Linked DNA regions of Homo sapiens. The gene in region 4 interacts genetically with the main gene of each other region. Each region holds a gene or a part of one and is shown on either strand. Other genes may lie near its edges. The genes, in order: CDKN1A, AXL, CKM and MAP2K7.

Region 1 (3,059 bases), on a different chromosome or scaffold from region 4:
AGAAGCTTGGCAAAGGGCCTGGCATAATGAACATTCCCAATAAATGTTAGCTAGTTGGTCTTTGCTGCCTACTTGCTGTGTGACCTCAGGGAGGTTGCTTCCCCTCTCTGGGCCTGTTTCCTTCTACCTGGAGCATGCTGGACCAGGACCAGACAGGTCAGCCCTTGGACCATGGATTCTGAGAATCCTGGTCCCTTACAAAGTCCTTCCGTGCACATGTCCGCACCTGTCATGCTGGTCTGCCGCCGTTTTCGACCCTGAGAGTCTCCAGGTCCACCTGGGGACCCTTCAGCCTGCTCCCCTGAGCGAGGCACAAGGGTACAAGACAGTGACAGGTCCACATGGTCTTCCTCTGCTGTCCCCTGCAGCAGAGCAGGTGAGGTGCCAGGCCGCCTGCCTCCTCCCAACTCATCCCGGCCTCGCCGGGGCCCCGTGGGAAGGTAGAGCTTGGGCAGGCCAAGGCCCCGCACACGCTCCCAGGCGAAGTCACCCTCCAGTGGTGTCTCGGTGACAAAGTCGAAGTTCCATCGCTCACGGGCCTCCTGGATGCAGCCCGCCATTAGCGCATCACAGTCGCGGCTCAGCTGCTCGCTGTCCACTGGGCCGAAGAGGCGGCGGCAGGCCTTGCTGCCGCATGGGTTCTGACGGACATCCCCAGCCGGTTCTGACATGGCGCCTGCAGCAGAGATACAAGGAAGGCCCTGGTCACGGCGGAGATTAGACACTATGTTACCTGGCCGGGCTTTGCTGTGTCACCTCAGGTGACGTCTTCCTACCAGAGGGTCTCTCTCACTCCTTCCAGCTGGTCTTCCTGCTTCCTTCCCACAGGAGGCCTGACCCCCACCAGCAGAGCTCAGCCAGCCTGGCACACCAAGGTCACTGGGAGAGCAGGCAACTGAAGGGCAAGCTAATGTCAACAAAGGCAAGTCTATTGCAAGAGCAAGGACCAGGGTCCTGTTTGCCACCAGGTATTATCAGCTAAAATCAATTTGTTTTCCCCCCAGAGGTGTCCCTCATGGGTGTGAATGCCCCCCAAATATGTGTGAATTGCCAGAGTCCAGCAGTTTCCTAATCGCAGCCCTGGCCAGAAGGTCAATTCCCAAAAGAAGAAACAGTCTGACAGTTCCTCCAGCCTCCTAAGTCCCCCGACCCAGATCCCCAAGTAGGGTAACCCTGCTCTGCCAAGTAAAAGTACCCGGGACTTTGGGGCAAAAAGCACCCGGGTTGTGGTCCTAGCTCTGCCAGTTACTACGTAAGCTTTAAAAAGCCACTTAATGTCTCTAGGTCTCAGTTTCCTCATCCATAAATGGGGCCATGTACAAGTTTAAAGAGCATGGCTACAGACACATACTCAAGAAATTGATCACAGAGTCCATGCAGCAAGGCAGACAGAACAGAGCTGAATGAAAGGCTGTATCCTGGTGGTTAAGCAGGAGGGCTCTGGAGCCAGATCACCTGGGCTGGAGTCCAGGTTTTACTAGGTGACCCTGGGCAAGCAACTTAACTTGTCTGAGCTCTAGTTTCCTCATCTATAAAATGGGGATAGTAATAGTGACTGTCTCAGAGGATAGACATGAGAATTAACTGAGTTAATGTAGGTAACGTGCCAGCAGCACTTCGTATAGAGAAGTGCATTGAAAACAGAAGTATGATTATTCCTCTCTGCCTTCAGTTTTACTGAGCCTCCCCCCTATCACTTCCCCCTGCCAACTACCTCCTTCAGACAGCAGCTGACAGGTGCTGTAGGCTGAGGGCCTTTCCCAAGGATGTCGTCAGGCGGGTGGCCTAGGGGTAAGGAGGGGCCGGGCGGGGCAGCGCAAGGGATGATTTCTCCCAGGCTGAGCCACATCCTGCCAGGCACATCAGGTGATCTGAAGTCTAGACACCTGGCAGCCCCTGCCTCGTGTTGCCTGTGTCCAAGGAAACCGTTTTGCAGGCAAAAAGAAAATTAAAGGTGGCTGGTCTACCTGGCTCCTCTCCTCCCCCTTCAGGAGAGGGAAAACGGAGAGTGAGTTTGCCCATGAGGGAGCCCTGGCACCTACCTGCCTGCTCTGGCTTGACTCCAGGGCTGAGTGACTGCACGACCTTGGCAGCAACTGGATTTTCCTAGGGACAAGTCCCAACTTGCAGTTTCTGGGGGTGAAAGCTCTGCTGAGTCCTCATGAGGCAGGAAGCCCGGGACACATGCCACATCTGCTCCACCCCACCTCACCCCACTGCTTGTGATCAGTGGAGCCCACAGTTTCACGTCCCAGCTGGTTGGGAGAGGAGGCTCTTGGTAACTTCACACCAAGTTTAAAGGGCAGGAGATGGAAGAGATATGAGACTTGCCCCTGAGTCATACAGCTAAAAAGGCCAAAGGCCACTGCCCCATAAAGGGGTCACCCAGTACAGTGGACAGAGCCCTCAAATAACCTCTATCCACCCTCTGCTAGGCATGAGTTGGGATTTATTTATATATTTTTATGTTTGGGGGCTGTTCTAAGCAGTTTAAAAATATCAATCCTCCTAAAAAGTGGATATCTATTAGCTCCCTTTTTACAGAAGAGGCAACCAAGGCTCAGATAAGTTAAGTAACTTGCCTAACATCACACAGTTCATAAGTGGCACAGCCAGGATCTGAACCCAGGCCTGTTTGCCCTGAGTCCTGTGCTGTAGTATTGAACCCCACTCCCTCTCTAATTTTGAGGTTTCTTAACCAGAGAGGCCCATCACAATCACTTGGGGAGGCCAGGGGCAGTGGCTTATGCCTGTAATCCTAATACTCTGGGAGGCAGAGGTGGGAGAATCATTTGAGCCCAAGGGTCCAAGACTAGCCTGGGCAACTAGCTGAGACCCTGTCTCTACTAAAAATAAAAATAAATAAAAATTAGCTGGGTGGTTGGGTGCAGTGTCTCACACCTGTAATCCCAGCACTTTGGGAGGCCGAGGAGGGCGGAGCACGAGGTCAGGAGATTGAGACCATCCTGGCTAACACGGTGAAACCCCGTCTCTACTAAAAATACAAAAAAAAATTAGCCGGGCATGATGGCAGCACCTGTAGTCCCAGCTACTCGGGA
Region 2 (8,359 bases), about 33 Mb from region 4:
ACTCAGAAGGGGTGCATTCTGGAAGCCTGGGGACATTTTAGGACACTCAGGGGACTGGGGGCATTTTAGAGGGTTATAGGGAGCCTCAGCAGTTTGAGGCCATCTATGGGGATTTGGGAATTCCCAAGAATTTCTGAGTTGGGTCCTGGGAGACTCAGGAGCTGGGAAGGGTCTCGGGAAACCTGTCTGTATATGGAGTAGTATTCTGATGAGGGTTTGCTAGAACAGACCTTCCAGCTCCCCAGAACAGACTTGCATCAAAGCCTGGCTATGCCACTTACAAGCTGTGCTGGTTTAAAATAGGTCCATAAATTCTTTGACCCTCCTCCCTGCAAAAGACGGAGAATAAATCCTCTCCTCTTGAGCATGGGCAGGACTTAGTGACTTGCTTCTGATTTGGCAGAAGTGATGGTGTGTGTGACTTCTGAGACTAGGTCATAAAAGGCATGTGGCTTCCTCGCACTTTCTCCTGGGTTGCCATGTTGTGAGTAAGCTCAAGCAGTGCCACAAAGGGGTCCACATGGCAACGAACTGAAGCCTCCTGCTACAGCCATGTGAGTAAGCCACCTTGAAAGCAATCCTCCAGTCCCAACCTTCAGATGACTGCAGCCCCCAGTGATATCTTTGTAACTTCATTAGAGATCCTGAACCAAAATCACCCTGCTAAGCTGTTCCCAGTATCCAACTTTCAGAAATTGTGTGAGATAATAAACGTTTGTTGTTTTAAACTACTTGATTTGGGGATATAGATAACAAACACACCAGCTGTGCAATCTTTGGCAAATAAATCACCCTCCCAGACTGGGCGTGGAGGCTCATGCCTATAATCCCAGCACTTTGGGAGGCTGGGACGGGTGGATCATGAGGTCACGATATCAAGACCATCCTGGCTAAGGTGGTGAAACCCCATCTCTACTAAAAATACAAAAAAAATTAGCTGGGCATGGTGGCACACGCCTGTAGTCCCAGCTACTTGGGAGGCTGAGGCAAGAGAATCGCTAGAACCTGGGAGGTTGCAGTGAGCCGAGATGGAGCCATTGTGCTCCAGCCTGGGCGACAGAGCGAGACTCAAGTCAATAAATAAAAATAAATTACCCTCCCTGTAGGACTGGGTTTTCTTATCTGCAGAATGGGAATCATAATGATACCTATCTACATCACATGGCTGTGGTAAGGACCAAATGATTTGACACATGCCAGGCACCTAAAACAGTGCCTTCTAGTCAGTTATATGAAAATGTTAGCTGTTATTTTTACTCGTCTCAGCTCTTGGAGTACCCAAGGTGGACTGAGGAGTCTGACGCCCCAGGCTGTCTCCTCCTGACCCAAAGTCATCCTCTCTTTACCCTCAAAGTGCTAGCTAAATGTCACGGCCTTCTCCGCATACTCCAATATTGCAAAGTTTGGTAAGCATTCCCTGAAGGATCCTGCAAATATCTCAGAGGAGACCTGAGTCTGGAGAAGGCCAATAAAACAAACTGAAGGGTTTTGCAGAGAGTCTCAGGTGTTGAGGAGCATGTCGGGGAAGCATGGTGTGCTCAGGAGTCTGGAATGAGAAGTCTCTGGGAGTGCATGTCCCAAAGGCAGGGCCGCCAGGTAAGACTGTGCTGTTATTCACTACCCAAGGATACCTGGCTTGGGGGTGGGGAGCCAGGGGGCTGATTCAGCCCACACAGACAAAGGAGGAAAGGGTGCCTTTAGCTGATTTGCACCCCACTGGTTAGTGATGGCCCTACTCAGAGCATTGGTGAGGGGCAAGTGGGTCACTCAGCATTCTCAGGGATTCTGTCTGGGTTATAGAGAGTCCTGGACCTGTGAGGGCCATCTGGGGGTAGTCAGGGGTTTGGAATGAATTCTGGGTTGGGGGAGACCTAAGGGTCCTCACAGTCCATCCAGACAGTCCGCAGGCTGCTTCAGGCGATTTCCCTGGCGCAGATAGTCATAAATCTCGCTGTTCTCCACGCCCGGATATGGGGTTTGGCCTCTTGTGGCAATCTCCCACATTGTCACCCCGAAGGACCACTGTGAGGGGCAGAGGGAATTAGACAGTCTCTCCTGCACAGAATCACCCGCACCAATACCCAGGTTCATGGGTACACCCACACTTATGTACACATGTTCACAACCATCCTCTGGGAGCATCACAAGTATTCATAGAAACATAATACTTTAGCCGGGTGCGGTGGCTGATGCCTGTAATCCCAGCACTTTGGGAGGCTGAGGTGGGCGGACTGCCTGAGGTCAGGAGTTTGAGACCAGCCTGGCCAATATAGTGAAACCCCGTCTCTACTAAAAATACAAAAATTAGCTAGGCATGGTGGTGGGCGCCTGTAATCCCAGCTACTCGGGAGACTGAGGCAGGAGAATTGCTTGAACCCGGGAGGCAGAGTCTGCAGTGAGCTGAGATCATGCCATTGCACTGCAGCCTGGGTGACAGTGCGAGACTCCATCTCAAAAAAAGAAAAATATATATATATAAAAAATACTTGACACGGGTATACACATGAATAAGTAACTTTTGTGGATGCATACACATGCTCACCATCACACACATATACACACTTCATGGACACATGAGCTCATGTGCCACTCTGCACACCCTGGCTGTCCACATTCTATGAGTGTGCGCACATGCACGCATAATCACTGCAGCTTCTTCTAACCTAAACTGTCTACATTGCTACCATGCACACGTGGGCCTGTATTTATCCTGGGCATGTACACACCACTATTCAGAGATGCCCACCATACCCCAAGACATGCCCAGCCCATGTGGACAAGCCCCTGCAAAGGGAAGCCCACATGTCCCTGTGACCCTTGCATCCACAGCCACCCAGGCATAGTGTGTGATGGTCAGGCCATGCCCTCCCATGGTTCCCCACTCTTGGCGGGAGTGCACCTACCACATCGCTCTTGCTGGTGTAGACACGGTCAGCTAGACTCTCAATGGCAATCCACTTGACTGGCATCTTGGCGATACGTCCCTGGCGGTAGTAGTCCCCATTGTAGATCTTCTTGGAGAGCCCGAAGTCCGCCACACACACGGACATGTTCTCATTCAGCCTGTTTGGATTGGGGAAAGGAACAGGGTCAGGGCATCAGTCACCTCCACCAGGAAGCCTGCCCTGGCTCTCAGACACATCTGCACCTCCTCCCCTCACTGTCCTGGCTGCGGGTGGGGATCTGTCTCCTAAACCTTCATCCCAGTCCAGAAGGGAACTGCTTTACTTCTTGTTCACTCTGTCAAGTGAGGATGGGACAAAGGGCTTCCTCAGGACTTCCCAATTTTGGCTCTTTGCTAGATTCTAAGGTCCTTCCTTGGGTTTGATTCCTTGATGAAATTTTTTTTTCTTGAAGTATACTGTACATATGGAAATGTGCACAAGTCATAAGTAAGCAGCTCACTGAATTTTCACACACACACACACACACACCCATGTAACCAGCACCCAGATTAAGAAACAGAACATGGCTGGGCATGGTGGCTGGCGCCTGTAATCCCAGCACTCTGGGAGGCCAAGGCAGGTGGATCACTTGAGGTCAGGAGTTTGAGACCAGCCTGGCCAATGTGGTGAAACTCTGTCTCTACTAAAAGTACAAAAATTAGCCAGGTGTGTTGGTGCACATCTGAAATCCCAGCTACCTGGGAGGCTGAAGCAAGAGAATCAGTTGAACCCAGTAGGCGGAGGTTGCAGTGAGCTGAGATCACGCCACTGCACTCCAGCCTGGGCAACAGAGTGAGTGAGACTCCGTCTCAAAAACAAACAAAAAAAAAAACAGGCACAGTGGCTCAAGCCTGTAATTTCAGCACCTTGGGAGGCCAAGGTGGGAGGATCACTTGAGGCTAGGAGTTCAAGACCAGCCTGGAAAACAAAGCAAGACCCTGTCTCTACAAAAAAATTTAAAAATTAGCTGGACATGGTGGCACATGTCTGTAGTTCCAGCTACTTAGGAGGCTGAGGCAGAAGGATAGCTTGAGCCAGGAGTTGGAGGCTACAGTGAGCTATGATCATGCCACTGCACCCCACCCTAAAGGACAGAGTAAGACTCTGTCAAAACAAAAAAGAAAAGAAAGAAAAAAAGGGAAAGAAAGGGAAAGAGAGAGGGAGGGAGGGAAGGAAGGAAGGAAGGAGATAAAGAGAGAGAAAGAGAAAGAAAAGAAAGAAGAAAGGACAGAGAGAAAAAGAAAGAAAAGAAAGAAAAAGAAAGAAAGAGAAAAAAAGAAAAGAAAATCCACAGGACATTCATATGATGGAATACCATACCACACAGCAAAGAAAAAGAGCAAACTACCCCTACACAGATCCATCTCAAAAACATCATGCTGAGCCATAGAAGCCAGACACAAAGCAGTACAAACTGCATGATCCCATTTGTATGACTTTTCAGAACAGGCTAAACTAGCACTGAGAAGTCAGGATAGTGGGTACCACTTGGCGGTAGTGATTGGGAAGACGAAGAGGCATGAAGGAGCCTGCTGGGGCTAAGAAATATTCTTTACCTTCATCTAGTGGTTACATGGGTCTATACCCATAAAAATTCATCGAGCTGAGCTGCATGTGTATATTTTAGTGTATGTAAAATATACATCAATTTTTTTTTAGATGGGATCTTGCCCTGTTGCCCAGGCAGTAGTGAAGTGATACCATCATGGCTGACTTCAGCCTCAACCTCCTGGGCTCTAGCAATCCTTCCACCTCAGCCTCCCAAGTAGCTGGAACCACAGGTATACACCACCATGCCCAGCTAATTTATTTTTTGTAAAGACAGGATTCACTATGTTGCCCAGGCTGGTCTTGAACTCCTGGGTACAAGTGATCCTCCTGCCTCAGCCTCCCAAAGGGCTGGGATTATAGATGTGAGCCACTGCGCCTGGCCAAGACTAATATTCTAACTCTGTGGTTCCATTCCCTCCACCTTCTACCCTCCCCTTACCCTCTATTCTGGCTTTTGGGGGATTTTTTGTTCTTTCTTTTCTTTTTTTCTTTTTTTTTGAGATGGTGTCTCGTTGTTGTTACCCAGGCTGGTCTCGAGGCTCAAGCAATCCTCTCACCTAAGCCTTGGGAATGGCTGGGACTACAGGTTACTATTTTCTTTTTTCTTTCTTTCTTTCTTTCTTTCTTTTTTTTTTTTTTTTTGAGACAGAGTCTTGCTCTGTCGCCCAGGCTGGAGTGCAGTGATGCGATCTCGGCTCATTGCAACCTCCGCCTCCTGGGTTCAAGCAATTCTCGTGTTGGGATTACAGGCGCACACCACCGCACCAGGCTGAATTTTGTACTTTTAGTAGACAGGGGGTTTCACCAAGGCTGGTCTCGAACTCCTGGCCTCAAGTGATCCACCCGCCTCGGACTCCCAAAGTGCTGGGATTACAGGCGTGAGCCACTGCACCCCATCTGGCATATTTTCTGCTTGTCCATTGGTGGGGAGTTTGATTTTCTTATCCAGTGTGGCCGCTTCCAAAGGGCAGCCCCAGGCAAGACACCCAGCATGGAGTGGGACAGAGATGCAGCTCACGTGTCCCCACCCCCATCGGTCACCTCAGCCCCTTTGCTCACCTCATGCTGTGCACTGAGCCCACCTTCTGGTCTCTTCCCTCTCCGCATCCAAATGCTCCTTCCAGATCTCAGTTCAGGACTCACCTCCTCCAGGAAGCCTTCCCAGACCCCCTTACTGACTTTCCTGGTCCTGAGTTCTGACCTGCCCTCAGCGGGTGTCTAGCCCTGCTTCCATCCTAAGAAGGAGGGAGGGAACTCCCTCAGGGAGTGCAGGAGCAGTTGGGGGGGGGGGGTCCCTGAAAGGCACTCACATGCAGTTCCTGGCCGCCAGGTCCCGGTGTATGAATCTCTTGGTACTCAGATACTCCATGCCACTGGCGATGTCTGCCATGAACTTCACTAGCATCTGAGTGGGCAGGTACTGGGGAGCCAAGGCAGGTGGGAGGAGAGGTCAACAGAGTCCTTGATGCGATCCCTCCTCCCTCCATCCCTCTGTGCAAGCCTAGCTCTGCCCGCAGTGGTTTCCCATGGCCCTGACAATTCAACCCAACCCCTCTCCATGGCCTGCAAGGTCCTATAAACTTGCTCCAGCCTTCCTCTTGGACTTGATTGCCTATGTTCTTGCCCTTGACTGACACTCCCACCAGACTCCTGTCTGGTCTTCAGACAAACGATGATCATTCCCACCTCCGAGCCTTTGCCTATGCTGTGCGCTCTGTTGGGGTCGCTTCCTGCCCAGATCTCCAGACATCTCCCCAGCCCCAACTCCTTCACGGTCACCTCCTCGGCAAGATCTTCCACGTCCACCCAAATTCACTGCCTGGCCTCCTTATCTTCCATCCTACTGTATTTCCTTCCTAGCACTTAAACATTTAAATCATCTCGCTTAGGTATTTATTAGCTTGTTTATCATCCGCCCCTCCCCTGCTGGAAGAAATGCTCCAGGAGAGCAAGCTCCTGGTCACCGTGGTCTTCCCAGGGTCTGAGCAGCACTGGGTACCTGATAGATGCTCAGTTAATATTTGTAGACTGAATGATTAAACGCCCCTTACCACTGGCTGGTCCCCGAGCCGGGAATAGAGGAGGAAGCTGTGTAGGTCTCCATGTTTCATGAAAGGTAAGATGACCACAGGTGCTGGGAAGCTCTCTCGTTCAGAACCCTGGAAACAGACACCTGAGCCCCCCAGGTAGCCCTGTCACTCCTGCTGGGCAGAAGGGGAAGCCAAGCCCCCCACCAGCCAGCCTCCAGCCTCTCCTTCTCACTACCCATCCAATCTGGCCACCATATTGTTTGGGGGTAGTGGCAGTGGCAAGGACCAAGCTGCAGAGAAGCTGTTTCCAGCAGAGTTCCCAGGGACGTTTCCGGAGCCCTCCTGGGGACCTCAGCTATTTCTGGGAATGATCAGAGGTCACATTCCAAGCTGAGGGAGACTAGGAGGGGGAAGCCTGCTGACCCTGAAGGAGCGGGGAGCAGGAAGCCTGGAAGTTTGATCTTCCCAGGGCCAGAAGCAGGGCTCTTCCCTCTGCTATGGCCCCCATGGGGCTTGTAGACCCCTTGAATCTGCCCCTCTCTCACCGATGAGCCTCATGACGTTGGGATGGTCAAATTCCTTCATGCAGACCGCTTCACTCAGGAAATCCTCCAGCTCTGACCTCGTGCAGATGGCAACTTGAGGGAGAGAGAAAGGTCGTGAGGAGGAGGGGAGGAGAGGGAGGACTCTCCCTCCACCTCCACTCCATCATCATCATCATCATCATCATCACTCATCTTCATCAAACATGATTAGTAAGTACCAGGCACCATACTCAGCACTTTATATGTGATATGTGTATGTGTGTGTGTCTGTGTGTGTGTATATAATATATATATATATATAAAATATATATTTTCTTTTTTTTTTTTTTTTTAGATGGAGTCTCACTCTGTTGTCCAGGCTGGAGTGCAGTGGTTTGATCTCGGGTCACTGCAACCTCCGCCTCTCGGGTTCAAGCAATTCTCCTGCCTCAGCCTCCTGAGTAGCTGGGACTACAGGCGTGTGCCACCACACCCGGCTAATTTTTTGTATTTTTAGTAGAGACGGGGTTTCACCTTGTTAGCCAGGATGGTTTCGATCTCCTGACCTCACGATCTGCCCGCCTCGGCCTCCCAAAGTGCTAGGATTACAGGCGTCAGCCACTGCGCTTGGCCAACTTTATATATATTAACTCATTTAATCTTCTCAGGTGCTACTATTATCATTCCCATTTTATTGGTTTTTTGTTTTGTTTTGTTTTGTTTTTGTTTTTGTTTTTTATTTTTATTTTTTGAGACAGGGTCTTGCGCTGTCACCCAGGATGGATGCAATCACAGCAAACATAGCTCACTGGAGGTTAGGCTCGAACTCCTAGGCTTGCCTTCCTGAGTAGCTGGGACCACAGGCACGCACCACCATCCCGGATAATTTTTTTTTTTTTTTTGAGATGGAGTTTCGCCCTTGTCCCCCAGGCTTGAGTGCAATGGCGCAATCTTGGCTCACTGCAACCTCTGCCTCCCCAGTTCAAGAGATTCTCGTACCTCAGCCTCCCGAGTAGCTGGGATTACAGGCATGCACCACCATGCCCAGCTAATTTTTGTATTTTTAGTAGAAACGGGGTTTCACCATGTTGGCCAGGCTGGTCTCAAACTCCCCACCTCAAGTGATCTGCCTGCCTTGGCCTCCCAAAGTGCTAGGATTTCAAGTGTGAGCCACCATGCCCAGCCAATTTTTTGAGAGGGAGTCTTGCTATGTTGTCCAGGCTGGTCTCAAACTCCCAGCCTCAAGTGATCCTCCCACCTCGGCCTCCCAAAGCACTGGGATTACAGGCATGAGCCACTGTCCCTGGCC
Region 3 (8,359 bases), about 37 Mb from region 4:
TGGAGGTAACAGTAAGCCAAGATTGCACCACTGCACTCCAGCCTGGGCGACAAGAGTGTGGCTCCATCTCAAAAAAGAGATTCTTTTCAAACTATTACTGCTGGCCAGGCACTGTGGCTCACACCTGTAATGCCAGCACTTTGGGAGACCAACATGGGAGGATCACTTAAGCCCAGGAGTTGGAGGTTATGGTAAGTCATGATTGCACCACTGCATTCCAGCTGGGCAACAGAACAAGACCCTGTCTTGAAAAGAGAGAGAGAAAGAGAAGGAAGGAAGGAAGGGAGGAAGGGAGGGAGGAAAGAAGGAAGGAAGGAAGGACGGAGAAGAAAAGGGAAGGGAAGGGAAGGAAGGGAGGGAGGGAAGGAAGGGAAGGAAGGGAGGAAGAAAAGAAAGGAAAGGAAGGAAGGAAGGAAGGAAGGAATTGCCGCAGCCATCTCAACCTTGAACGACAACCGCCCTGATCAGTCAGCAGCCCATCAACATCAAGGCAAGGCCCTACACAACAGAAAGGTTCCAACTTGCTGAGTCCTCAAATGATCACAACATTTTTAGCAGGATTTTAAAATTAAGGTATGTACTTTTTTTTTTCTAGACATAATGCTATTGTGCACTTAACAGACTACAGTATAGGATAAACATAACTTTTTTTTTTGAGATGGAGTCACACTCTGTCCCCCAGGCTGGAGTGCAGTGGCGTGATCTCAGCTCACTGCAACCTCTGCCTCCCAGGTTCAAGCGATTCTCCTGCCTCAGTCTCCCAAGTCGCTGGGATTACAGGTGTGTGCCACCAGACCCAGCTGATTTTTGTATTTTTAGTAGAGATGGGGTTTTACCATGTTGGCCAGGCTGGTCTCAAACTCCTGACCTCAAATGATCCACCTGCCTCAGCTTCCCAAAATGCTGGGATTACGGTGTGAGCCACTGTGCCTGGCCTCTTTTTATTTGTTTTTGAGGCAGGTTCTCACTCTGTCACCCTGGCTGGAGTGCAGTGGCACAATCACGATTCACTGCAGCCTCAACCTCCCGGGCTCAAGTGATCCTCCCACCTCAGTCTCCTGAGTAGCTGGGATGACAGGTGTGTGCCACCACTCCTGGCTCATTTTTGTCTTTTTTGTAGAGACAGGGTCTTGCTGTATTGCCCAGTCTGGTCTTGAACTCCTGGGCTCAAGCGACCCTCCCTCCTAGGCCTCCCGCACTGCTGTGGGAGCCACTGTGCCCGGCCTCAACTCCTCCTATCTGAGGTGGCTCCCCTCGGTCATTCTCCACCACACCCATGTCTTGGCTTCATGGCACTTTTGAATTATCTTGTTCATCTGTGGGTTTCTGTATTTCCTCTTGTCTCCCCACCAGCTGAACACTCTGTGAGAACAGTGAGGGACCCCTATCTCCCCACACAGGGCAAGAACCCCTGGAAATGTGTGCTGGATGAACGGATGGCAGGACGCTGGGGGCAGCCAGGTGTCTGCGTAGGTCTTCTCAGGGGCCGTCGGGTCTGGACAGCATCCCTGAATCTCCAACACAGCAGGTAATGCTGACAGCCCGCGCCATTCCCCAAGCCCCCACGATTTACCAAGCTCTTCCCCTACTTTGAAAAGCGGGGGCCCAAAGAGACCCGAGGACCTGCCCATGGAGGAACAGAGCCAGGGCTGGGTGACCCCAGCAGTGGACGGGGTAGGGGCGCTCACCTTCCACAGAGAGCTTCTCCACCGCCCGGCGCTCGCCACGGGAGCAGTGTGGGGGCAACGTGTAGCCCTTGATGCTGCGGCCAGTGCGGACGCGGCTGCTGAGCACGTAGTTAGGGTCCAGGTCGTCTCCACCCTGGAGAGCGGGTGGGAGATCAGGACCAGGCAGATCCTCCGCCCTCTCCAGCAAGCCCAGGTCTCCCCCAGATGCTCCCCTCAGTCTCCCTGTTGCTTCCTTTGCCTTCTGCATCCTCACTGATTGGGTGTGTGGAGCCTCTCCCCGCCACCCATACCTGGGCTCTGTCTCTCCCTTCTCTGTCTCTCTCCCCTCTCCTATCTCTGTTTTTCTTTATACCTCTCTCTCCCCATCTTCGTATATTTCTTTTCCTTTTTTTTCTTCGAGACAGGGTCTCTCTCTGTCGCCCAGGCTGGAGTGCAGTGGTGCCATCATAGCTCACTGCAACCTCAAACTCCTGGGCTCAAGCAATTCCCCTGCCTCAGCCTCCCAAGTAGCTGGGACTAACAGGTAGGTATATGCCACCATGTTCGGCTAACTTAAAATAAATTTTTTATAAATAGAGACAGGGGCTGGGCGCGGTGGCTCACACCTGTAATCCCAACACTTTGGGAAGCCGAGGTGAGCCAATCACCTGAGGTCAGGAGTTCGAAACCAGCTTGGCCAACATGGTGAAACCCCATTTCTACTAAAAATACAAAAATTAGCTGGGCGTGGTGGTGCGCGCCTGTAATCCCAGCTACTCAGGAGGCTGAGGCACGAGAATCACTTGAACCTGGGGATCAGGGGTTTCCGTGAGCTGAGATCGAGCCACTGCACTCCAACCTGGGTGACAGAGTGAGATTCTGTCTCAAAAAAAAAAAAAAAATAGAGACAGGGTGTCACTATGTTGCCCAGGCTGGTCTCAAACTCCTGGGCTCAAACAGTCCTCCTGCCTCAGCCTCCCAACGTGATGGGATTACAGGCATGAGCCACCATGCCTAGCTAAATTTTTAGGCTTTTTTTTTTCTTTTTTTTGGGCAGAGACGGGTTCTTGCTATGTTGCCCAAGCTGGTCGTGAACTCTCCTGGCTTCACGTGATCCTCACACCTCAGCCTCCATAAGTGCTGGGATTACAGGTATAGCCACTGCACCCAGCCTTTCTGCCCATTTCTGTTTCTCTTCCTGTCTCCCTTTCTCCCACTCTCCTTGTCTGTGTCTGACTGCAACTGCGTGTGTCTCTCTCTCCCTGTCTCTCCTGCCTTCTCTGATGCTCCCTTCTGTCTCCCTCTGTGTCTCTGCCTCTCCCCCCACCCTTTTTTTTTTAGGCAGAGTCTCGCTCTGTCACCCAGGCTGAATAGCTAGGATTATAGGTGAACACCAGCATGCCTAGCTAATTTTTGTATTTTTAATAGAGACTGGGTTTCACCGTGTTGGTCAGGCTGGTCTCGAACTCCTGACCTTATGATCCGCCCACCTCAGCCTCCCAAAGTGTTGGGATTACAAGCGTGAGCCACTGTGCCCGGCTATGCCTCTTCCTTTTCTACATGCTTTTGTGCCTTTCTTCTCCCTCTCCCTCTCCTTTGTCTGTCTGTCTCCTTGGTTGTCTGTGTCTCCTTGGCTGTCTCTGTGTCTCTCTGTCCCTCTCTCTTTCCTTTTTTTATTTTCTGAGATAGAATCTTGCTCTGTCACCCAGGCTGGAGTGCAGTGGCATGATCTCAGCTCACTGCAGCCTCCATCTCCTGGGTTCAAGAGATTTTCCTGCCTCCACCTCCTGAGTAGCTGGGATTACAGGCACGCGCCACCATGCCCAGCTAATTTATTTTATTTATTTATTTATTTATTTTTTGAGACGAGTTTCGCCCTTGTTGCCCAGGCTGGAGTGCAATGGCACGATCTCTGCTCACCACAACCTCTGCCTTCCAGGTTCAAGCGATTCTCCTGCCTCAGCCTCCCACGTAGCTGGGATTACAGGCATGTGCCACCACACCCAGCTAATTCTGTATTTTTAGTAGAGACGGGGTTTCACCATGTTGGTCAGGCTGGTCTCAAACTCTCAATCTAAGGTGATCTGCCCGCCTTGGCCTCCCAAAGTGCTGGGATTACAGGCGTGAGCCACCGCCGTGCCCAGCCCTTTTTTTTTTTTTTAAAGACAGAGTTTTGCCATGTTGGCCAGGCTGGTCTTGAACTCCTGACCTCAAGTGATACGCTCGCCTCAGCCTCCCAATGTCCCTCTCTCTTTCCATCTCTCTGCTTCTCCACACCTCTGTGTCTCTCTCTGTCTCTGTATTTCTCTGTCTCCCCCCATTTCTCCTGTGATCTCTCTCCTCCTCACCCCTCGGCCCTCCCCTCCTGCGCAGACACCGACCTTGAGGTTTTCATGGTTGAGGTCAGTCTTGTGCTTGTCAGTGGGTTTGTAGCCCCCGTGGCGATCCGAGATGATGGGGTCAAAGAGTTCCTTGAAAACTTCGTAGGACTCCTCATCACCAGCCACGCAGCCCACGGTCATGATGAAGGGGTGACCTGGAGGGGTGGGGGTGAGGTCAGAGCTGCTTGTCCCCAGCAAACAGGGCGTGGGCTTGTGGGCTCAGTGGAGCCTGTGTGGACATGTGTGTCGGGATGGGGGCGGGTACATTCAATACCTCTGGGTGGGAATTGAGAATCATAAGGGTTGGGCACAGTGGCTCATGCCTGCAATCCCAGCACTTTGGGAGGGTGAGGCGGGTGAATCTCTTGAGGTCAGGAGTGTGAGACCAGCCTGGCCAACAGGGTGAAACCCCATCTCTGCTAAAAATACAAAAATTAGCTGGGTGTGGGGCACACACCTGTAATCCCAGCTACTCAGGAGGCTGAGGCATGAGAATTGCTTGAACCAAGGGAGTGGAGGTTGCAGTGAGCCAAGATCACACCACTGCACTCCAGCCTGGGTGACAGAGCAAGACTCTGTCTCCAAAGGAAAAAAAAAAAAAGAGAGAACACTGAGGACTGGTGGGAACTGGGAGGGAAGGCTGGGAGAGGTCAAGGTGGCTGGGAGGGGTCAAGGTGGGAGAGAAGAAAGAGTGCTGGGGGCGGGGTCAAAGGAGAAAGGGGAGCTTCAGAGGGTACATGGTGCTAAAAGCATCAGCACCTCGGAAACATTAGCACCCAAAGTCATGACATCTTAGCCTGAAATGTTAGGATCTCAGGCTACCACCGTACCACAGAGGGTCAGGAGGGTAAGAGACTTGAAAGACCCTCTTGTTTCCCAGTGGAAAAACAGGGGCCAGGAGAGAGGGGCTTCTCCCCGGCATCACACAGTGAGCTGGATGTGAGGGGCACTAGAGCCTCCCCTCCACTCCCAGCTCTCTTCGCCTTGCAATGTCCTTTGAGAAACAACCATAACATTAATAACATCCCCTGTCAGATTCTTTTTTTTTTTTTTTGAGACAGGGTCTCACTCTGTGGCTGGAGTACAGTGGCGCGATCTCGGCTTACTGCAACCTGCACCTCCCAGGCTCAAGCGATCCTCCCACCGCAGCCTCCTGAGTAGCTTGGACCACAAGCCCTCATCACCACACTTGGCTAATTTTTTTGTATTTTTTGTAGAGACAGGGTCTTGCTATGTTGCTCAGGCTGGTCTCAAACTCCTGGCCTCAAGTGATCCTCCCACCTGGGCCTCCCAAAGTGCTGGGATTACAGGCATGAGCCACTGCACCTGGCCCCCCTGTCAGAGCTTGAGCACTCACTTGGTGCCAGGTGCCACTCTAAGCACTGCACAGCCATTGACTTGTGTTTTCACAACGTGGGCGCCCATTTTTCAGATGAGGAGACTGAGGTTCAGGAGGTGAACCGACCTCCTTGGGGATCTCACATTATTCTCGTGCATGTTTATTGCGTGGTTTGCTGAGTACCTCGCACTGTCCCAAGCCTTTATGTATATTAATGCATTGATTCCCACAACAGCCCCATTTTACAGATGAGAAAACTGAGGCCCCCCCCCCTTCAAGGGTGGTGGGATTGGGGCATGGCCGGCAGCCTCCAGAGCCCCCATGTAGCCCCTTCAGTGCTCCACTGGGGAGGCTCACCTGGGTTGTCCACTCCTGTCTGGATGACATCGTCTACAGTGAAGCCAGATGGAGTCTCCTTGTCCCGCAGCTTCTTGTAGAGTTCAAGGGTCAGTACCTTGGCCATGTGGTTGTTATGTTTGCTGAGGTCGGGGTACTCCTCCTCAGGCTTGTAATTCAGCTTGAACTTGTTGTGGGTGTTACCGAATGGCATGGTGGCGGTGTAGGAGACCTGATGGGCAGGGCAGGAGGGGAAGATTGAAGATTAGCTGGCATCTTTTTTCTTCTTCTTCTTCTTTTTTTTTTTTTGAGACGGAGTCTCGCTCTGTCACCCAGGCTGGAGTGCAGTGGCACGATCTCGGCTCACTGCAAGCTCCACCTCCTGGGTTCACACCATTCTCCCGCCTCAGCCTCCCGAGTAGCTGGGAATACAGGCGCCCGCCACCACGCCGGCTCATTTTTTGTATTTTTAGTAGAGACGGGGTTTCACCATGTTAGCCAGGATAGTCTTGATCTCCTGACCTTGTGATCCGCCCGCCTCGGCCTCCCAAAGTGCTGGGATTACAGGCGTGAGCCACTGCACCCGGCCTTTTCTTCTTTTTTTTGAGATGGAGTCTCACTCTGTTACCCAGGTTGGAGTGCAGTGGCGAGACCTCGGCTCACTGCAGCCTCCACCTCCCAGGTTCAAGAGATTCTCCTGTCTCAGCCTCCTGAGTAGCTGGGATTACAGGCGCACACCACCATGCCTGGCTAATTTTTTTGTATTTTTATTAGAGATGGGGTTTCACCATCTCTACTGGTTGGCCAGGCTGGTCTCGAACTCCTGGCCTCAAGTGATCCACCCGCCTCGGCCTCCCAAAGTGCTGGGATTACAGGCGTGAGCCACTGTGCCCCGCCTAGCTCGCATCTTGCAGACAGCAGCAAGAGAACTGGGCAAGGCGTTGGGGTCAGGCAGGCTGTGTAACTTGGAGCAAGAGAAATCCTCTCTCTGAGCCCCTGTGTCTCAGCAGGAAGGCATCCGGAGTCTTAGATCAAGGGCCTGGCTCTGCCGTATCCCAGTTGGGTGAGCCTGGACTAGTCATTCTTGCTGGAAACTCAATTTCCCCAGGTGGAAAACGGGCCCCTCCCGGAGGCTGGAAAAATATTTTGTGTGGGTAAGAGTGTAGGTTCTGGAATCAGCCCAGGGTTTGATTCCCAGCTCTGCTACCTACAACCAGCTGTGTGGCCAGGGGCAAGTTGCTTAACCTCTGTGCCTCAATTTACTCATCTAGAAAATGAGGATCCTAACAGCACTTGCCGCATGGGAGTGTTGAAAAGATTAAATGTGTGAATACAGGTGTAGCTCTCGGAACAGTGCCTGGTACACAATAAGCATTATTTCACTTAGCTGCTATTATTATTATTATTATTATTATGTTTGAGACAGAGTCTCGCTCTGTCGCCCAGGCTAGAGTGCAGTGGCATAATCTCAGTTCACTGCAACCTCCACCTCCCAGGTTCAAGCAACTATCCTGCTTCAGCCTCCTGAGTAGCTGCAACTACAGGCGTGTGCCACACCTGGCTATTTTTTTTTTTGGTATTTTTAGTAGAGTTGGGGTTTCGCCATGTTGGCCAGGCTGGTCTTGAACTCCTGAACTCAAGTGATCCGCCCACCTCTGCCTCCCAAAGTGCTGAGATTACAGGCATGAGTCACGGCACCTGGCCTGTTGTTGTTATTTTAAAGGTTCGTGCGAGGAGCTGGTGAGAAGGTGGAGGTGAGGGTGCTGCTGGGAGTATGTGAGCAGGTTCTTGGATTATCAATCCAAAGACAAAGGGCTGGGTCGGGGGAGGGCTGGGTAGCTGCCCCCACCTCTGCCTGCTGACAGTTCTCCCACAGGGCTCAGAAGGGAAGAAAAGCTCAGCCTCTGGGTCGTCAGAGGCAGGTTCAAATCCCACCTATGCCATTTCCCTGCTGTGTGACCCCAGGCCAGTCACTAGGCCTCTCTGGACCTCTGTCTCCTGTGAACTGAGCCTGCCCCGTAGGATTGCCAGGATCCTCTGAGCTTGGCCATGAGGTTGGCTGAGCACAGGCCCTGGCATGGAGTTGGAGCCTGGAACCCTGGTGGCTGCTATTATTGTTATTTGTTATTACTACTTTTTTGCAGAGATGGGGTCTCACTATGTTGCCCAGGCTGGTCTGGGACTCCTGGCCTCAAGTGATCCTCCAGCATCGGCCTCCCAAGATGCTGGGATTATGCGTGTGAGCCACTGCGCCAGGTCCTACTGTTATTATTATTTTATTCACTGGACCCAGAAAGGAGAAGGGACCCAGAAAGGAGAAGGGGCCTCCAGCAGCGGTGGGAGACGGGGATGGGAAGCAGGTGGGATTGTGGGAGGGAGATTGGGACCACGGTGAGCTGAAGCCAGGGAAGAGGAACAGGGACCCGCCAAAGACCTTGGGTGCTGCTGTCCAGGGTGGTTATTTTTAGAATCTGGCAACTGCCTGCCATCCCACCCCCAGCTGCTGCCCCGCCCCACCCCCACATTCCGGGGCTCGGCTTGCACCAAGTCAGCAGGCCCAAGACAGGTGGGCCAGGGTGGCTGGGAGGACACGGGTCCAGGCCTCGGGGCTCAAGGACATCCTGGGATGGCAGCCC
Region 4 (8,359 bases):
CAAGGACAGAGAGGTAGAGCAGGGGACAGAGGGCGACGGAAGAGGAACGGGCGCGTGGGAGTGGCGAAGGACACAGCACGCTGGGAGCGTGCATGGTGGCTGCGGGACTCCAGGGCTCTCTCCTGGCCCCTGGGGGCCGCCCCGGCCCAGAGGCTGCGGCTGAATGAACAGCGACTCTGATCGCGGCCTGCTGTCTTCCGTTCACAGTGTCTGTCGGGGGACGCACACGGCCGGCTGACCCCGGGGTGGGAAGGGCGGGGGCTTGGTAGGCCCGGGGCGGGGGGGGTGGGTGGGCACCCCCCACTCTCTGTCCTCAGTCCTAGGTGGCCGTCCAGGTCCCAGGTCTCCCCTGGCAGGCAGCTGGGTGGCCAAGTGGGGAGGGGGGCCTGTGGCCATGCCCCTGGCCCCCTGTGGGGCTGGCCGCCGCCAAGCAGCTACCTGAAGAAGGGCAGGTGGGGCTGGCTCAGGACGCCGCTAGTCCGCGGTGACTCAGTCTTCGCCATGACATCCTTGAACCAGGACGCCACGTCCACCTCCAGCGTCTCGTAGCGCTTGATGAAGCTGTGTTCCTGTGGGCCCGAGGGGGTGGGGCTTAGGAGGAGACGGTCTTCCCTCCTGGCCTCGCGCCTCCGCAGGGACAGGACGGGGACTGGGAGGGCTCAGGTACTCACAAGTAGCTTATTATACTTTGGTCTCTTCCTGTGATCTTTAGTAAGGCTAGAGCAAGAGAAGGGAAGACAGATGTGAGAACGAGGGAGGAGGGGATGCCGGCCCCACCCCTGTGCTCAGGCCCTCCCCAAGGGGCCAGGGGTCCCCAAGATGTGTGTGGGGGAAGGAGCTGTGGATGTCCTCAGGACCCCGGCTGACAGCGGGGAGCAACTGTGAGTCCCGGAGCCTCCTGGCCTAGGGCCAGGTGGCAAGGGCCTGGCTTGGGGGGCCAGAGCTGGCTGAGGTCCCCCAGAAAGGTGGGTGGGGCTCCCCTGAGAGAATCGAACATGGCCCTCCTGAACTTGTAGCTGTGCTTGTTGCAGAAGCGTGCTCACAATCTCCAACAGCCACCCCGCCAAATGCCACAGGGCTGGCTGTCCCCTCAGGCTAGGTCCAAACCCAGCTCATGGCTCCCTGGGCACCAGCTCCAGCTCCTGTGGCAGCCGCCAGCCAGGAGCCCGCCCACAGTCGCATCCGCCCATCCCAGGGTGCGGCCTCCATTCCCCTCCTGCCATTGCCTCCCCAGCTGCCCAGAGCAGCGGGCTGTCCCTGACCTCCCAAGTGGAGGGAGGTTCTCACCAGTCTTTGACGAAGGACTGGAAGTCCCCCGAGAAGCCCATGTGTCCGGGCAGAAGCGGGGGCTCTTCCTGTAGGACTTTGGTGAGGACCTCAAAGTCCGTCTTGCAGTTCTTGTAGGGAAACTGTCCTGTTGCCAGCTCCACCTGGGAGGGAGACGGGCAGGGCTGGACAGGTTTATGTTCTCCTCCCTCCGAGTCCCCCAGAAGCCCTCACTCCTGGCTGGAGAACAGGGGAGGGCCCCAACTCACCAACGAGATGCCCAGGCTCCATACGTCGGCCCGGATGTCATAGTCCGGCTTGGTGGGGTCTGGGGGGTCAATGCGCTCGGGCTGCAGGGGGGGGAGGAGAAGACGTATCTCCAAGGCTGGGGCCGGCCTCCCAGCCCCCACCCCCTCCCCCGCTGGGGGGCCCCCACTCACTGCCATGTAGGCGGCACAGCCGGCGCTCCGCGTCTTGGCTTTGGAGTCCACCAGGCGGCCGCTGATGCCGAAGTCGCAGAGCTTGATCTGGCCCCGCTCGTCCAGCAGGATGTTGGAGGGCTTGACGTCGCGGTGGATGACACCGTGCTTCTCCTTCAGGTAGTACAGCGCCTTCACAATCTGCAGGCACGCAGAGGGGGGTGCATGTGGCAGGGGGCACAGACCCAAGGCCACCTGCCCGGTGCACGCCCCACCTGGCCACTCACCGCCACTGTCATCTTGCCCAGTGCACGCCCCGCCTGGTCACTCACCGCCTCTGTCATCCTGCCCAGTGCAAGCCCCGCCTGGTCACTCACCGCCACTGTCATCTTGCCCAGAATGCGCTCGGGGATGGGGCCCTGCATCCGCTTCTTGAGCTTCTCAGCGCAGGTGCCCATGAGCTCCATGGCGATGAAGACGTCCGTCTGCAGGGAGAGGGGCACCCGGGGGAGCTGTGTCTTCCGGCCCACCCCCCAGAGGCTCTGCTCCCTAGGAAGGGGCAGGGGTGAGGGAGGAGGAGACGCTGCAGGGCGCGGCCAGGTACTCACGTTGGTGATGAACGTCCCAAAGCACTGCACGATGTAGGGGCAGTCGTGGCTCTTCAGCACCACATCCAGGTCCATGAGGATGCGCTTGTTCTCCTCCTTGTTCCCGGAGCGCCGCATTTGCTGCACAGGCAGGGACAGGAGGGAGCCTCAGCACCGGCCTGGGGTGTGGGGCGCAGCCGGGGTAGCCGCCAAGGCTCACCTTAACGGCAATGACGTGGCCGGTCTTCCGGAAGCGCATCTTCCACACCTGGCCGCAGGTGCCGCTGCCCATCTCGCCCAAGTTCTCCAGGTCGTTGATTTCTGCCTGGTAGCGCTGGGAGGAGAGGGAGGGTTGGAGGGTCCCTGGGGCCTCTGCCACCGCCCCCTGCCCCCCACTGGCGCTCCCAGGATGGGTCCAGCCTGGCTGGGCCTCCTCCCTCTCCCCGCCACAGTGAAGGTGGTACCTGGCCCCCGATGGTCAGGTAGCCCGTCTGCTTCATGATCTCCTGCAGCTTCTGGTCAATCTCAATGCTGGGGACATGGAGCAGGTGCCGGTGGAGGTGGGTCCTGACCTTAGGTTGGCCACCCCAGTCCCCCATACCGGGGTTCCCACCGGTTTAACCACCCTCCTCCCAGGGCTGGCACGGTGGCCCCTCAATGCTGCTTCCCACCCAACCCTGCTGGGCCCCTGGCTCACCTCTCCATGCTGCGGGGTGTGAACAGGGTTGACGGGAGCCCCAGCATGTGGCGGGGCCGGGCGGGGGGCGTGGGGTGCTGCGGGGAGCTCTCTGAGGATGGCGAGCGGCTGCCCCCATCGTTGGCCAGCGGGAGCTGCAGGGCTAGGGGGGTGAGAACCAGTGGCAGGGAGGGGGGTCAGCGCCCAGCTGGTGTCAGCTCCACATCTGGCACTCCAGGGAGGGGTCGGGACCCTCACCTTCCCCTCCTGGGTTTCCCGAGCTAGGCTGGCACAGCCCCCTGCCCTGCTGGGCTGGAGGAGCTGGGGTCTCCCTCCCACCCCAGACTGTTCTCAGGGTCCCTTGTCTCATCCCCTGACCTGGAAAGAGATGGAGGAGGCTAGCAGGGGAGAGGGAGCCCCAAGTCTACGCTGACGGAGAAACGAGATGGGGACCTGAGGTGTCCCTCGGCCAGGGGGCCTCCCTGACAGGTGTGTGCACTTCCTCCCACTTCTGCCCAGGAAGCAGGCCCAGGGCCACAGCACCCACAGGATGGATAGGCCAGGGCGGAGTGCCTGCCAGGGCTGGCCCAGGCTGTGGCTCTGCTGGTAGCACTGAAGTTGGCTCCCAGACAAGAGCGAGCAGGGCCACGCTGGGGAGGCAGCGGGCACGAGACCCAGGCTTCAGGCTGCCTTGCCCTATCTTCTGTTCCGGGGTCAGGGAGGGCCCCCCTCGGGCCAGTGGGCTGACATGAGGGCCTCCTGGCCTGGCCTGCAGAGCTGGGGCCCATGGGGGCAGGACAGGACCTCAGGGGGCCTGCATCCTCTGGGAGGAGAGCTCGGGGGCACAGCTCCTGCAGGGGCTGGCGGGACCAGGTGGGGCCAATGCTGGGCCAGGCGGGGGTTGGCTCATCCAGCAGCCTGCATGCGGGCAGCTCGGGCATGCTACAGCGGGTGGGCAGGCGGCGGGCAGGCAGCAGGCACCCTGGGGTGGGCAGGCGGCATTAGGGGTGGGAGGGCAGGAGACAGACAGACAGACAGGAACCAAGACTAGGGCCCAGGTGCCCAGAGGAGGCGCTGCAGAGACAGGCCAGAGAGGGGCCTGGGACAGGAGGGCAGCTTCCCGGAGGAGCTAGGGTCTCCCTGGCTGGGCTGGCAACAGGGTGCAGGAACAGAGGCCGGGATGCTAACGTGGCCTCCAGAGGAGCCAATCCTGACACGTCACATCCTAGAGGCCCTGACAACGGCTACACACACCTACCAAGGTGCCCCTCCCACAGGAGCTGGGGCCTGCCGCTCTCCAAAGCCCTCAGCCAACAAGCCCCTCTCCCCTCTTTTCCTCCTGCCTCGTCCACCTTTTCTCCCCACAGTTCTGCAGGCTCCTGGTGACTGGTGCCCAGGGACTAATATGAACAGACAAACCCGCTCCATGCTGGCAGCTAAACCCCGTCCCTCCCGTGTGCCCAGGACCCTGATCTCAGCCAGTAGGAGGGGCAGGAAGACGCCTCAGTCCCAATGCAGGAGGCCCAGCATTGCCCCTATCTGGTCCTGCCAGCCCCTGCAGGAGCTGTGCCCCCTAGCTCCCCTCCTGGAGGACCAGGCAGGAGCAGGGGAAGGGCTCTGGGGACCTTGGGACACAGCCAGGCCCAGCGTTCATGACTGGCCTAGAGGCCTCACCTCCCGTGCCCCTCCCGCTGTCCTGGCCACTGCCGCCTCTGCAGCACCACGTCACCTCCCACTGTTTTTTTTTTTTTTTGAGATAGGTTCTCGCTCTGTCACCCAGGCTGGAGTGCAGTGGCGTGATCTCAACTCACTGCAACATCCCCCTCCCAGGTTCAAGTGATTCTCCTGCCTCAGCCTCCTGAGTAGCTGGGATTATAGGTACACGCCACCACACCCAGCTAATTTTTGTCTTTTGAGTAGAGATGGGGTCTCGCTATGTTGGCCAGGCTTCTCCCTCTGCTTCTTCAGGTCCCTGCGCCTCTGCTCTGTCCATGGCCTGAGCCACAGCCCCAGTCCCCTTCTGGCTCCCGAGGGCCTGTGCTCCCCCCAACCCAGCCCCCAACCCCTGTGCACCTGGCATCTCTTGAGACACTGCCTAGTTCCCGCCCTCAGAGAGTATCCGAGTCCCGCTCACACCCTGCACTCAGCGGTTGACGACCACAGCCCTCGAGGAGTCCTGTGGGCCCCTTCCCTGACAGAGCCCACCAGGCCTTCCGAGGGTGGCCCCGGAGCCTGGGGAGGAGGCTGCCGGACCACAGACTGGAGCATGGGGGGATGGAAGGGAGGGTTCAGGTAGGCACTGGGGGAAGGAGGTACACAAAGGCCCTGAGAACAGAGGCCACAGAGGTGGTGATGGCCACATGGCAGCTCAGGAGGGTGGAGTGAGAGCAAGAGGGTGAGGATGAGAAAGAGAACGGATGAGAGAGAGCGAGAGGCTGGAGGGCACGTGTCTGCCGACAGGAGCCACAGGTGCACCGGCTGCCATGTCAACATGCACGCACATGCCGTGCAAGTGCACGCACGCACAACACACACCCGGGGCATGCCGTGGACCTAACACCCATGCAGCCGGGACAGAGTCCCCCTTGCCCTCGGACACACATACTCACAACCACTCACAGGGCCAGGCACCCCATCTACTCTCTCTCCCAACACAGGCGTGGGGCACAGCCTGCATGCCCCACACAGGCTGGCGCTGCGCTCAGAGCCCTGGCGGCCCTGTCTTCTCTCCCCCCCCAACTCCTTCAAGACGCTTTTTAAATTTTTTTTTTTTTTGAGACGGAGTCTTGCTCTGTTGCCCAGGCTGGAATGCAGTGGCGCGATCTCAGCTCACTGCAACCTCCACCTAATCTTTTATGTTTTTTTTTTTTTTGAGATGGAGTTTTGCTCTTGTTGCCCAGGCTGAAGTGCAATGGTGCGATCTCAGCTCACTGCAATCTCCGCCTCCCGGGTTCAAGCGGTTCTCCTGCCTCAGCCTCCCGAGTAGCTAGGATTACAGCCTCCCGAGTAGCTGGGATTACAGGTATGTGCCACCATGCCCGGCTAATTTTGTATTTTTAGTGGAGACGGGGTTTCTCTATGTTGGTCAGGGTGGTCTCGAACTCCCGACCTCAGGTGAGCCACCCGCCTCGGTCTCCCAAAGTGCTGGAATTACAGGTGTGAGTCACTGTGCCTGGCCTAATCTCTAGTATTTTTAATGCAGACAGGGTTTCACCATGTTGGCCAGGCTGGTCTCGAACTCCTGACCTCAAGTGATCCACCCTCCTTGGCCTCCCAAAGTACTGAAATTACAGGCATGAGCCACTGCGCCTGGCCCAGTTTTTAAATTTTTGAGACAGGATCTCGCTGTCACCCAGGCTGGGGTGCAGTGGTGTGATCATGGCTCCCTGTAGCCTCAACCTCCCCGAGTGTTGGGATCACAGGTGTGAGCCACCGTGCCTGGCCTCCCCAGAGGCTTTGTTCAATTCCCACCGTCTCCAGAGGTTCCCCCAGGCTGGCCCCCTGCAGGGCCGCTCACCCAGCTAGAATGTTCTCTCTGGTGGGAATGTGCTCCTTGTCCAGTGGGCCCCCCTATTGCAGCCCCCCGCTACAGAGGAGAGGGGCTCCATCTGTTCTATTCACTGCTGTGTCCCTGGCGCCCAGGGCTGGTATGGAACCCGGGGGGTGCTATGTGTTCACCTAGTTGTTGAGAGAGATCCATAGGCACAGGCCACCCACCCACCAGGCCCAACTTTCTCGTTCTCTCAGTTACACACACACAGGCGTGCACCCCCCCCACCCCCGGAGGCCACAGACTCCCATTCAGTGGGGGAGCCCACCTCCTCCTCCAGGGAGTCCAAAGTGGAGCTGGGAGTAAGGGAGGGGGAGGAGGAGGGAGGACGCAGAGGAGGCTGGGCTGGGCTGACCGCTGCTTGAGTGGAGTGAGAGAGAAAGTGAGAGTGAGGGGAAGGGACATGGGGACACACACAGAGCATGGGGGCTGGGGGACGCCATTCTGCGGCCGGGGCAGCGGTTAGGTCAATGGTGCAGATGTCCAAGCAGCGATGATAAAAAGGCTGGTACCTGCTCGTTGGGACGGGGCAGGAGCAGGGCTTAGAGTGATCACAATAACTGGATGGGGAAAAGGAAGAAAAAAACAACACCACGATAAATCACAACAGAAACGACTGATTCGTCCAAAAGAAAAGAAATCAAATCATAAACGAGGAGGAGGGGGAGGCACCGAACTGCAGAGATGGCTAGGAACCGACAGAGATGGGGAGGGCGGGGAGGATGGGATGGAGTTGACACAGACAGAGACGCCTGGAGGGGACTCCTCGGGGGCCTGCCTGCCACCGGCCTCCTAGCTCTGCATGGGAACGGCCACCCCTGAAGGCACCCGGGATCCTGGACTCAACCCTGTCTCATCCACTCAGGGGCCAGGGAGGGCGGCCCCCAGGGGCTAGCAGGGACCCGTGTCTTGGCTGGGCTTCTTGTCTCAGGCAGTGTCCTGCACCAGAATCCCCACCTCCATGATTTCTCTGGACCCCCAAGAGACTCCCCAAGGAGGAACCCACGCTGACTCAGGTCAGGAGAGGGAGGGACAGGAGGGTGTCAGGCTGTGAAGGTCAGGCTGGGTGACCAGGGAATGGGTGGGGTGCCCAGATACGGGGGTACCTTTCTCGCCTGCCATAATGACTCCATAGAGAGAACTAAATAAACTACGAAGGTCACATCAGAGGAGACAAGAGAGAATTTTACTGGGTCAAGAAAGACACAAAAAGGATCATGGGTCAGGGGTGGTGTTCACAGGGTTTGAAAATCTAATTTCCTCCAGCCCAGAGGATTTAGAGACCAGGATCTTGGGGAAAAAGCCGGGAGACTAGATATGGTCAGTGTTCCCAGGCCAGGTGTGTGTGAAGCGAGAGGTACTGATCTAGGATGACAAGGTGTCAGGGAGGTAGGTACCGAGGTGGTGGGACTGATCAGAAAGCAGGTGGATGTATGCTGGGGCGCGGCGGGAGCAGGCCTAGAGTCACACTGGCCCCAGGTGTCCCCAGGTCAGGTGGGTGTGGGTGTGAAGGGAAGGGGAGCCATCACTTGAACACAGGTGACAAAGTCACCGGGCTGGCTGGGGGTCGATGTGCATTTCTGGAGGTCAGACACCACACGCTCACCAAGATGGTGGCAGTGAAACTGGTCACAGGGATTTGCGGGGCCTGGTGTATGTGGGAGGGGGTCTGCTGAGCCCAATGCCATGGTCACTGTCGCCAAGAGGGGGAGAAGGGACCCCCTCCCGTCCCCCCACCTCAGACACGGTCACAGGGAGAGCGAGAGGGAGAATCCTCGGGTCAGAAGAGATGGGGAGGGGCTCTATGTGGTCAAGTAACCTCAGGTGTCCCCGAGCCAGGCGTGCGCGTGTGCGTAGATCG

The links.
Region 1: changes in MAP2K7 (region 4) and CDKN1A together harm fitness more than expected from each alone (negative genetic interaction), as found in Homo sapiens cells (one large-scale study listed by BioGRID).
Region 2: changes in MAP2K7 (region 4) and AXL together harm fitness more than expected from each alone (negative genetic interaction), as found in Homo sapiens cells (one large-scale study listed by BioGRID).
Region 3: changes in MAP2K7 (region 4) and CKM together harm fitness more than expected from each alone (negative genetic interaction), as found in Homo sapiens cells (one large-scale study listed by BioGRID).

Annotation. Positions count from the first base shown.
Region 1 is NC_000006.12:36,681,714-36,684,772, reverse strand, and holds part of CDKN1A (cyclin-dependent kinase inhibitor 1), read right to left. Parts: intron 677-3,059; coding exon of another isoform or gene 672-676; coding exon 227-671; coding exon of another isoform or gene 128-226; intron 1-127. UniProt on the Homo sapiens protein: Plays an important role in controlling cell cycle progression and DNA damage-induced G2 arrest. Involved in p53/TP53 mediated inhibition of cellular proliferation in response to DNA damage.
Region 2 is NC_000019.10:41,251,156-41,259,514, reverse strand, and holds part of AXL (tyrosine-protein kinase receptor UFO isoform 1 precursor), read right to left. Parts: intron 7,165-8,359; coding exon 7,072-7,164; intron 6,670-7,071; coding exon 6,548-6,669; intron 5,917-6,547; coding exon 5,807-5,916; intron 3,064-5,806; coding exon 2,904-3,063; intron 2,023-2,903; coding exon 1,886-2,022; intron 1-1,885. UniProt on the Homo sapiens protein: Receptor tyrosine kinase that transduces signals from the extracellular matrix into the cytoplasm by binding growth factor GAS6 and which is thus regulating many physiological processes including cell survival, cell proliferation, migration and differentiation.
Region 3 is NC_000019.10:45,313,777-45,322,135, forward strand, and holds part of CKM (creatine kinase M-type), read right to left. Parts: intron 5,956-8,359; 5' UTR 5,938-5,955; coding exon 5,745-5,937; intron 4,204-5,744; coding exon 4,049-4,203; intron 1,822-4,048; coding exon 1,689-1,821; intron 1-1,688. UniProt on the Homo sapiens protein: Reversibly catalyzes the transfer of phosphate between ATP and various phosphogens (e.g. creatine phosphate).
Region 4 is NC_000019.10:7,904,507-7,912,865, reverse strand, and holds part of MAP2K7 (dual specificity mitogen-activated protein kinase kinase 7), read right to left. Parts: intron 7,059-8,359; coding exon of another isoform or gene 7,011-7,058; intron 3,112-7,010; coding exon 2,970-3,111; intron 2,804-2,969; coding exon 2,737-2,803; intron 2,607-2,736; coding exon 2,493-2,606; intron 2,414-2,492; coding exon 2,294-2,413; intron 2,171-2,293; coding exon 2,063-2,170; intron 1,887-2,062; coding exon 1,707-1,886; intron 1,617-1,706; coding exon 1,536-1,616; intron 1,452-1,535; coding exon of another isoform or gene 1,431-1,451; coding exon 1,288-1,430; intron 718-1,287; coding exon 672-717; intron 570-671; coding exon 435-569; 3' UTR 1-434. UniProt on the Homo sapiens protein: Dual specificity protein kinase which acts as an essential component of the MAP kinase signal transduction pathway. Essential component of the stress-activated protein kinase/c-Jun N-terminal kinase (SAP/JNK) signaling pathway.